Linked DNA regions of Homo sapiens: region 2 is linked to region 1. Evidence: fine-mapped expression QTL. A gene starts in region 1. The other region holds a variant in brackets. All regions are shown on one strand. Distances are from middle to middle. Region 1 holds the start of LONP2 (lon peptidase 2, peroxisomal). Region 2 overlaps ABCC11 (ATP binding cassette subfamily C member 11).

Region 1 (4,393 bases):
AGGAAACAACAGGTGCTGGAGAGGATGTGGAGAAATAGGAACACTTTTACACTGTTGGTGGGACTGTAAACTAGTTCAACCATTGTGGAAGACAGTGTGGCAATTCCTCAAGGATCTGGAACTAGAAATACCATTTGACCCAGCCATCCCATTGCTGGGTATATACCCAAAGGATTATAAATCATGCTGCTATAAAGACACACACACACGTATGCTTACTGCGGCACTATTCGCAATAGCAAAGACTTGGAACCAACCCAAATGTCCATCAATGATAGACTGGATTAAGAAAATGTGGCACATATACACCATGGAATACTATGCAGCCATAAAAAAGGATGAGTTCATGTCCTTTGTAGGGACATGGATGATGCTGGAAACCATCATTCTGAGCAAACTATCGCAAAGACCGAAAACAAAACACTGCAAGTTCTCACTCATAGGTGGCAACTGAACAATGAGAACACTTGGACACAGGGTGGGGAACATCACACTCAGGGGCCTGTCGTTGGGTGGTGGGGAGTGGGGGGGAAGGGATACCATTAGGAGATATACCTAATGTAAATGACGAGTTAGTGAGTGCAGCAAACCAACATGGCACATGTATACATATGTAACAAACCTGTACGTTGTGCACATGTACCCTAGAACTTAAACTATAATAAAAAATAAAATTAAATTAAAAACAGAAAAAAAATAAAAGTATCAAGGTTGTAAAAAAAAAAAAAATTGGACGGGCGCAGTGGCTCAGGCCTGTAATCCCAGCACTTTTGGGAGGCCAAGGCGGGCAGATCACGAGGTCAGGAGATTGAGACCATCCTGGCTAACATGGCGAAACCCCGTCTCTACTAAAAATACAAAAAATTAGCCGGGCGTGGTTGCGGGTGCCTGTAGTCCCCAGCTACTCGGGAGGCTGAAGCAGGAGAATGGCATGAACCCGGGAGGCGGAGCTTGCAGTGAGCCGAGATCTCGCCACTACACTCCAGCCTGGGTGACAGAGCGAGACTCCGTCTCAAAAAAAAAAAAAAAAAAAAAAAATTGAGGACTTGCCACAGATTAGAGAACACCTAGGAGATTTCATAACAAAACACCTAGGAGATTTCACAACAGGATCCTGGATATTGGATCCTGGACCAGATCCAATGAAGGACATTAGTGGGAAAACTGGCAAAATTTGGGTAAGGCCTATAGGTTAAACGATAATAATGTTAATTTCCTGGTTTTGATCATTGAACTATGATTATGTAAGATGATAACAGACGAAACTGGGTGAAAGGTATATAGGAACTCTGCTGTAGTTTTGTACATCTAAAATCAATTCGGGCCGGGCACGTTGGCTCACGCCTGTAATCCCAGCACTTTGGGAGGCCGAGGTGGACGGATCGCTTGAGGTCAGGAGTTAAAGACCAGCCTGGCCAACATGGTGAAATCCCCTCCCTACTAAAAATACAACAATTAGCTGGGTGTGGTGGCGGGCATCTGTAATCCCAGCTACTCGGGAGGCTGAGGCAGGAGAATCGCTTGAACCCGGGAGGCAGAGGCTGCAAGCCGTGGGTATCGCGCCATTGCACTCCAGCCTCCGCGACAGAGCGAGAATCTGTCTCAGAATAAATAAATAAATAAATAAATAAATAATTAGTTCGAATCAAAAGTTAAAAACACTTCAAGTATATGTAAAAAATCGAAGAAAACGTTAAAAACACTTCAAGTATATACAATTCAAATAAGATCATCCTTCCAAATATACTCTGTAAGTGAGGCGAAGGTCGCTGCACGCTTGAGTGCACGTCTTTCCGCATAGGTAGGACGCTCAAGTCTTACCGGGAGGCTCTCCTAGAGAGCAGCGCGAAGCCATGGCTTTTGGGCCCGGGGACGGACCGTAGCGCGTAGCCGGAAGCGGAGGCGTGGAGGCGGGTCTGAGGTTTGGTGACTGCGGGGCAGGCCGGGGGCAGCTGTCTGTCTGGCTCTTTTTGACAGCCCCCAGTGCGAAAGGCTGCCAGCATGTCATCAGTGAGCCCCATCCAGATCCCCAGTCGCCTCCCGCTGCTGCTCACCCACGAGGGCGTCCTGCTGCCCGGCTCCACCATGCGCACCAGCGTGGACTCGGCCCGCAACCTGCAGCTGGTGCGGAGCCGCCTTCTGAAGGGCACGTCGCTGCAAAGCACCATCCTGGGCGTCATCCCCAACACGCCTGACCCCGCCAGCGACGCGCAGGACCTGCCGCCGCTGCACAGGTAGGCCTGGCTGCCCCCGCGGCGGCGGCGGGCGGCGCGGCCTCCTCCGGGGACCTGGGCCCAGGCCACGGCCTGCCTTGAGCGCGAGGCTCAGTTCGGGGCGGCCTTCGCGGCTCGGTTCCGCCTCTCTGGTGCTATCACTTGCAAAATGGGGATGTCAGATACCTGCCCCATGACCATGAATGAGATCGTTCATGAAGTAGTGCCTGACACCTGGTGAAACTACGCAGTTCCCTACCGTTCTGGATAATTTAATTTGAATCCTCTTCCCCCTCTCCGCAATTCCTCGCCCTCGGTCTTCAGCCTCCTAGGCCAGTGCTTTTAACTTTCCAGGCCCTTTCTTTCTCCCCGGTGATCTCTGCCTTCACTTGCCTTCGCTTTTCACCTTTCTCCCCACTGCCCTTTACTCCTATCCGCCTCCCCTTTTCTGTCACCCATCATTTTTGTCCGCTGAGGCATTCTCTGCTCCGTGAGTTTTAACTTTTCCTGTTTCATTCCTAAACTGCACTATTTGTGGGTGCCTTTCTTCTATACTCCCTGCCACCCTTCTCCTTCTCCCCCTAATCCTTCTGTTTCCCTTTGTAAAGGGCCTTTACTGCTCACATTTTCGCTGGTCCCCCTTTCTGGAACTTTCCTAGCTTCTCACCTCTGCTCCTTCACTCATAACATTTCTTAGGCCCCAGGCTTACTACTATATTGCCCAGTACCCTCGCCCTATTGGTGTGACTTTGGGTGAGAGCTTTAACCTCTATTTCTTTTATTCTGCAATTTGGAAACTGACAGCATCCATCTCTTAGGCAAGTTATGAAGAATAAATTGAATAATGTGTATATTCCACTTTGCACCATGCATGATGGATGACTTTGCTGTCCAGTACTGTGTAGTGCATGTGGCTCGTCAAATTGAGATGATAGAATTGCCAGTTGTCCTGGTTTGCTGCGATTGTCTGTTTTAGCATTGAAAGTCCTATGTTTTAGCCCCTCCGTCCCAGGGAAACCAGGAGGTTGGTCACCCTAAATGTGCTGTAAGTGTACAATACACGCCAGATTTTGAAAAAACTTTTTGATTAATACATTTTATATGGATTAAATGTTGGAAAGGTAATATTTTGAGTACTTGGGGTTAATAAAATGTTAAGATTTCTGCTGTTTTTACTTTATAATGTGGCCACTAAAATTTTATATGTGGTCCACATTATATTTTTATTGGACAATGCTGGTATATCGTATGCTCTCAACAAGTATCTTCAAACTCACCTGCCAAGCACCCGCCTCCTATTCCTAACTCTACTGGAGGTGTTGTGTTTTCAGTTTAGAGCTTCTCCTTTCCTGGCAGTTATCCCTTATTTTTAAATTAGGGGTTCCTGACTCTGAATGGATTTCCGGAGGGTTGGACATGTCTTATTTTTCCTCAAAATCTTGTGACTATGTACATTTTTTTAGGAGAATCCTTTGCTTTCTTCAGATTCTCAAAGGAGACTGGTACCTCCCCCCACCCCCGTTAAAAGAAAGCAAAACAAAGCAACAAAGACCAACAAACCTTCCACAGCAGCCCAGTATTCATTTATATTGTAAAAGCCTTGATTTTCTCAAGCATGGAAAATATTTTGGCTCCCATCTGACCTGCTTTGGTTATTGCCTGAGTGGAATTGGTCACATTCCAAGTTTCAGTACTCTTTGATAAATTGTATTGGATTCTAGTTTCCCAACATACGACTCTGCTCCTTCTGCTTACTTTTCCCAAATTATTTTGCCTTCTGTGCCCAGGCACACTTAGTTCCCTGTCTAGGCAAGAGTGGTCATTATTAGACTTCATTTTCTTTCTACTGTGCATATGTATTGATTAGCCATGGGCACATTGTGAACTTGAAAAGTCGATTTAGTCACATTTTAAGTTTCACTATTTGTTGGTATTATTCTGGCAAGATTTTGGAAGGTTTTTATTATTTATTCATTTGTGTATTTTTTGAGACAGAGTCTCATTCTGTCTCCTCCGCTGAAGTGCAGTGGCGTGATCGTAGCCCACCGCAACCTTGATTGAACTCCTGGGCTCAAGTGATCGTCCTGCCTCAGCTTCTGGAGTGGCTGGGACTATAGGCGTGCACCACTACACCCAGCTAATTTTTAAATTTTTTGTAGAAATGGGGTCTCACTATGTTG
Region 2 (4,393 bases), 52 kb before region 1:
GCTGACAATTCAGTATTCTAACCAAACACATATTCCAACTTTAACATATGTGAGATTTCAGTTTCCTCATATGTAAAATGAGGATAATATCCACTTCAAAGAGAACTCAGGGCAATCATAAGCAACTCTGTATATGACCATGCTCAGCCAGTGGAGGCCAGCGTCACTGTGGCCCTCCATCAGGGGACACTGAGCTCTTAGAACCAGACTTCCAGCAGGAGAGCTCCACCGCACTTTCATCACTCCCTTCTCACCAAGCAGCCTGGTTCACCCAGCTGCAACTACATTTTAGAAAAGGCAAAGCTATGAAGAGAGTAAAAAAGATCAGTGGTTGCTGGGAGTTTGAGGGTAGGGAGGGAGGGATGAATAGGTGGGACACAGGGTTTTGTTTATGGCGGCGGAACTATTCTGTACCATGGATACATGTCATTATACATTTTTCAAAACCCATAGAATGCACAGCACAAAGAATGCACCATAAGGTGAACTATGGATATTCATTAATAATAGTAATTAATAATGTACCAATATTGACTCATCAATTGTAACAAATGTCCCACGTTAATGCAAGATGTTAAGAATAAGAGAAATGGGCCAGGTGCAGTGACTCACAACTGTAATCCCAGCACTTTAGGAGGCTGAGATGGGCAGATGGCTTGAGCCCAGGAGTTCAAGACCAGCCTGCGCAACATGGCAAGACCTGTCTCCACAAAAATACAAAAATTAGCCAGGCATGGTGGTGTGCCCCTGTGGTCCCAGCTACTCGGAGGTTAAGGTAGGGAGGACTGCTTCAGCCCAGGAGGTCGAGACTGCAGTAAGCTGTGATCACACCACTGCACTCCAGCCTGAGTGATAGGCAGGTATATGAGAACTCTCTGTACTTTCATCTCAATTTTTCTGTAAACGAAAAGTGCTCAAAAAATAAAGTTGGCTTGGTTTCAAGTCTTTGCTATTGTGAATAGTGCCACAATAAACATACGTGTGCATACATGTGCATTTATCTTTACAGCAGCATGATTTATAATCCTGAAGCTGGAAACCATCATTCTCAGAAAATTATTGCAAGGACAAAAAACCAAACACCACATGTTCTCACTCATAGGTGGGAAATGAACAATGAGAACACAAGGACACAGGAAGGGGAACATCACACACTGGGGCCTGTTGTGGGGTTGGGGGACGGGGGAGGGATAGCATTAGGAGATATACCTAATGTTAAATGACGAGTTACTGGGTGCAGCACACCAACATGGCACATGTATACATATGTAACTAACCTGCATGTGCACATGTACCCTAAAACTTAAAATATAATAAAAAATAATAATAAAATAAAGTTGGCCGGGCATGGTGGCTCACACCTGTAATTCTAGCTACTTAGGAGGCCAATGTGGGAGGATTGCATTAGCCCAGGATTTTGAGACTAGCCTGGGCAAACAGAGCAAGACCCCATCTCTACAGATAAATAAATAATTAAGGTCTACTAATAAAAAAAAAATAGGCCGGGGGTGGTGGCTCATGCCTGTAATCCCAGCACTTTGGGGGGCCGAGGTGGATGGATCACTGGAACCCAGGAGTTTGAGACCACCTTGGGCAACGTGGTGAAACCCAGTCTCTACAAAAAATACAAAAATTAGTCAGATCTAGTGGCATGTGCCTGTACTCCCAGCTACTTGGGAGGCTGAGGCAGGAGGATCACTTCAGCCTGGAAGGTGGAGGTTGCCATGAGTGGAGATTGTGCCACTGCACTCCAGCCTGGGCTACAGAGCTCTAAAAAATAAAAAAATAAAAAAATAAAAATGAAGCTGGGCAAGTTCAGAGCTCAGCCTTCGGCCCCACCCAGCACCCAGGCCCATACCTTGTTGAAGAGCTTGTTGTGCAGGGCCGTGGATGCCTTCCTCGTGACCTTGGTGAAAATCCCTGAGGAGCAGACCCCCACACAGATGAGGAGCAGGGCGTTGAGCCCGTACACCAGCTGGTAGAAGGACAGTTGAGGATTGTCTGCAATGTTGCCCAGGTCTGCCATGGTTCCATTGCTCTCTCGGCTGCTATTGGTCTTCAAGAAAGAACAGGGGGTCTGACTGCAGGTGTCCGGGGGAAATTCAGTGGCAG[G/A]GAAAGCCTTCTCCCTGGGGCCACGTGAGAATCTGTGGCTGGTAGAAGGTGAAGCTGTTTGCCCAAACCTCCCTGCTCAGCGCTTGGCTACTCTCTTTTGCCCTTCATTCCCACTGCCCTGCCCTGCATCAGGCCCTCAGAGTCTGCCCCGTGGACACTGCAGCAGCTGGGCCCTTGTGCACGCTCTGCTGTGATGCAGCGAGAAGCTTGGGAACGTGATTTCCCAGAACCCCTCCCAGCATGGTTTCAGGTCAGATTCTGCCAAGGAGAGGCACCCACAGGGAAACAGAAAGGTGGAAGAGGAGAAGCCAGCATGCTCAGTGGCAACTGTGGGCAGGAGCATGGGGTGTGGGGTTTTTCCAGAGGCTGGAAGGCATCCTGGGAATCACCCACTTCAGTTCAGCTGAGATCCCTGATGGCCAATTCCCCTCCAATGGTTGACTGAGCCTCTAATTCCCTATATTAAATCCTTGGAAGCTCTAAATACTTAGAGTGGCTTCTGCTCTCCTGACCCAAACCTCCTGGTACACGATCCAGAAATTAACCATATGGAGTACTGTGGGAAAAGCATGGCTTCGATTCTAAGCACCAAGTTCAAGTTCCGGCCCTGTCCTGTCCTAGGGCAGGTTCTTCATCCTCTCTAGGCACAGGGTCCCCTTGGAAAAATGGAGACAGTGGAACCTTCCTCTGAATGTGGGTGGGGAGATTAGTGAAATAACTTGACACAGTGTGGCCCGTGGTGGCTCCCAGCTCACAAGACCAGAAGTATATTTTAAATAAACCATAGTATGGAGGCCAGCCTGGAGCTAAAGGAGACAGTTACTGCAGTGGAATGCAAAGATTCTTGGGGCACTGTCTGGGGATATAAATCTCTTGGTTTTCCAGTAAGACTGCACAGGCGACCACCCATTCTACAAAGTCAGGAGGCCTGTGCCAGGGGAACCCCAGAGTCCTGGCTCCCCACGGTTCTCTCTGGAACACCAGCTCTGGGCTTGTCATGTGGGTCCCAAGCCATGCTCTGGCTCTTGTGGTCTCAAGGAGCAAGAAGTCACCCCACCTCACTCAAGCCCATAGAAACACAGCCCATCCACCTCATGGCACTCACCCCCGAGCCCTGCTCCAACCAGTAGCTCAGCCACCAGAAGCTGAAGATCGTTAAGAAGACGATCAGCACCACGAAGAAGAAAATTATGCAAGAGACCATGTAACCTGGGAGGGAGACAGTGGTGATGTACAAGTGCCACAAACAGGTGCGAGGCAACTGCTGACTCAGCTGCTCGGCCATCTCTGTCTTTGAGTGCTTGGAAACCCTTGAGCCCCACCCAATGTGGACACCTTGGAGGAATGGGAAGAGCTGGGTTCCAAAGTCAGAGAGCCCTGGGTTCAAATCCTGGCTCCACCACTTCCAAACCGTGTGACCTTGGATAAGGTACCAAATGTCAGCAACATACCACTTCTTTACCTATGAAATAGTGATAACCTTACCAGCTTCAGAGCCATGCTGAAGATGATATGATATAATGTGTGTGAAGCACTCAGCCCAGTGCCTGGCACAGGGCAGTGTTCTAGAGAAGTTAGTTCACCTTATGCAGGTCCTGCAGGTTCAGTTTTATAAATAATAATAACAGTTACCTTTTATGTGGTACGTACTATTATGTGCTACATGCCAGGAATAGTACCAAATGTATGCATTATTTCTGAATTAGTAATTCCTATCCCCATTTTCAATAGTGCTACTGTGTGAATGTATGTGTCTCTCCAAAATTCATATGTTGAAACCAAATTCCCAAGGTGATGGTATTAGAAAGTGAGGCCTCTAAGAGGTGACGACCATGAGGATGGAGCCCTCATGAGTGGCATTAATGCCCTTAAAAAAGAGGCTTCAGAGAGCTGCCTTCCTGGTTTTTTGTCCCTTTCACCATGTAAGGATACAACATTTATCCCCTCCAGGGATGGAGGACACAGCGTTCAAGGCGCCATCTTGGAAGTAGATACTGGGCCCTCACCAGACAAAAAACTTGCCAGCACCTTGATCTTGGACTTCCCAGTCTCCAGAACAGTGAGAAATAAATTTCTGTTCTTTATAAACTACCCAGTCTAATATATGTTGTTACAGCAGCACAAATAGGCTAATAAAATGAGGAAACTTAATCTGAGAGGGGAACTCCCTTGCCCAAACTTGCAGAGTTGGTGAGTGGCAGAGCTGGGATTTGAAGCAGTTAAGGGCAGGAAAAGGCAGGGTACACTCCTTGGGGCACTGCCTCCTGCTCTAGCACTCCTC

The links. PIP is the estimated chance that this variant, and not a neighbour inherited with it, causes the effect. A credible set is the group of variants that fine-mapping cannot tell apart.
Region 2: its variant is the best candidate, but not a certain one, in a credible set for the expression of LONP2 in whole blood (TOPMed, PIP 0.64).

Annotation. Positions count from the first base shown.
Region 1 is chr16:48,242,388-48,246,780 of GRCh38, forward strand. It overlaps LONP2 (lon peptidase 2, peroxisomal), which reads left to right and starts at 1,913. Exons shown (of 15, transcript NM_031490.5): 1 at 1,913-2,234. The coding sequence starts at 2,002. All of the region lies in intron 1 of ABCC11 (ATP binding cassette subfamily C member 11), which reads right to left. RefSeq lists an enhancer at 1,849-1,938.
Region 2 is chr16:48,190,662-48,195,054 of GRCh38, forward strand. It overlaps ABCC11 (ATP binding cassette subfamily C member 11), which reads right to left. Exons shown (of 30, transcript NM_001370497.1): 19 at 3,218-3,321; 20 at 1,859-2,056. Among named protein-coding and RNA genes, the nearest start is that of ABCC12, 37 kb to the left of the region's middle. The variant G/A (reference allele first, on the strand shown) is at 2,113.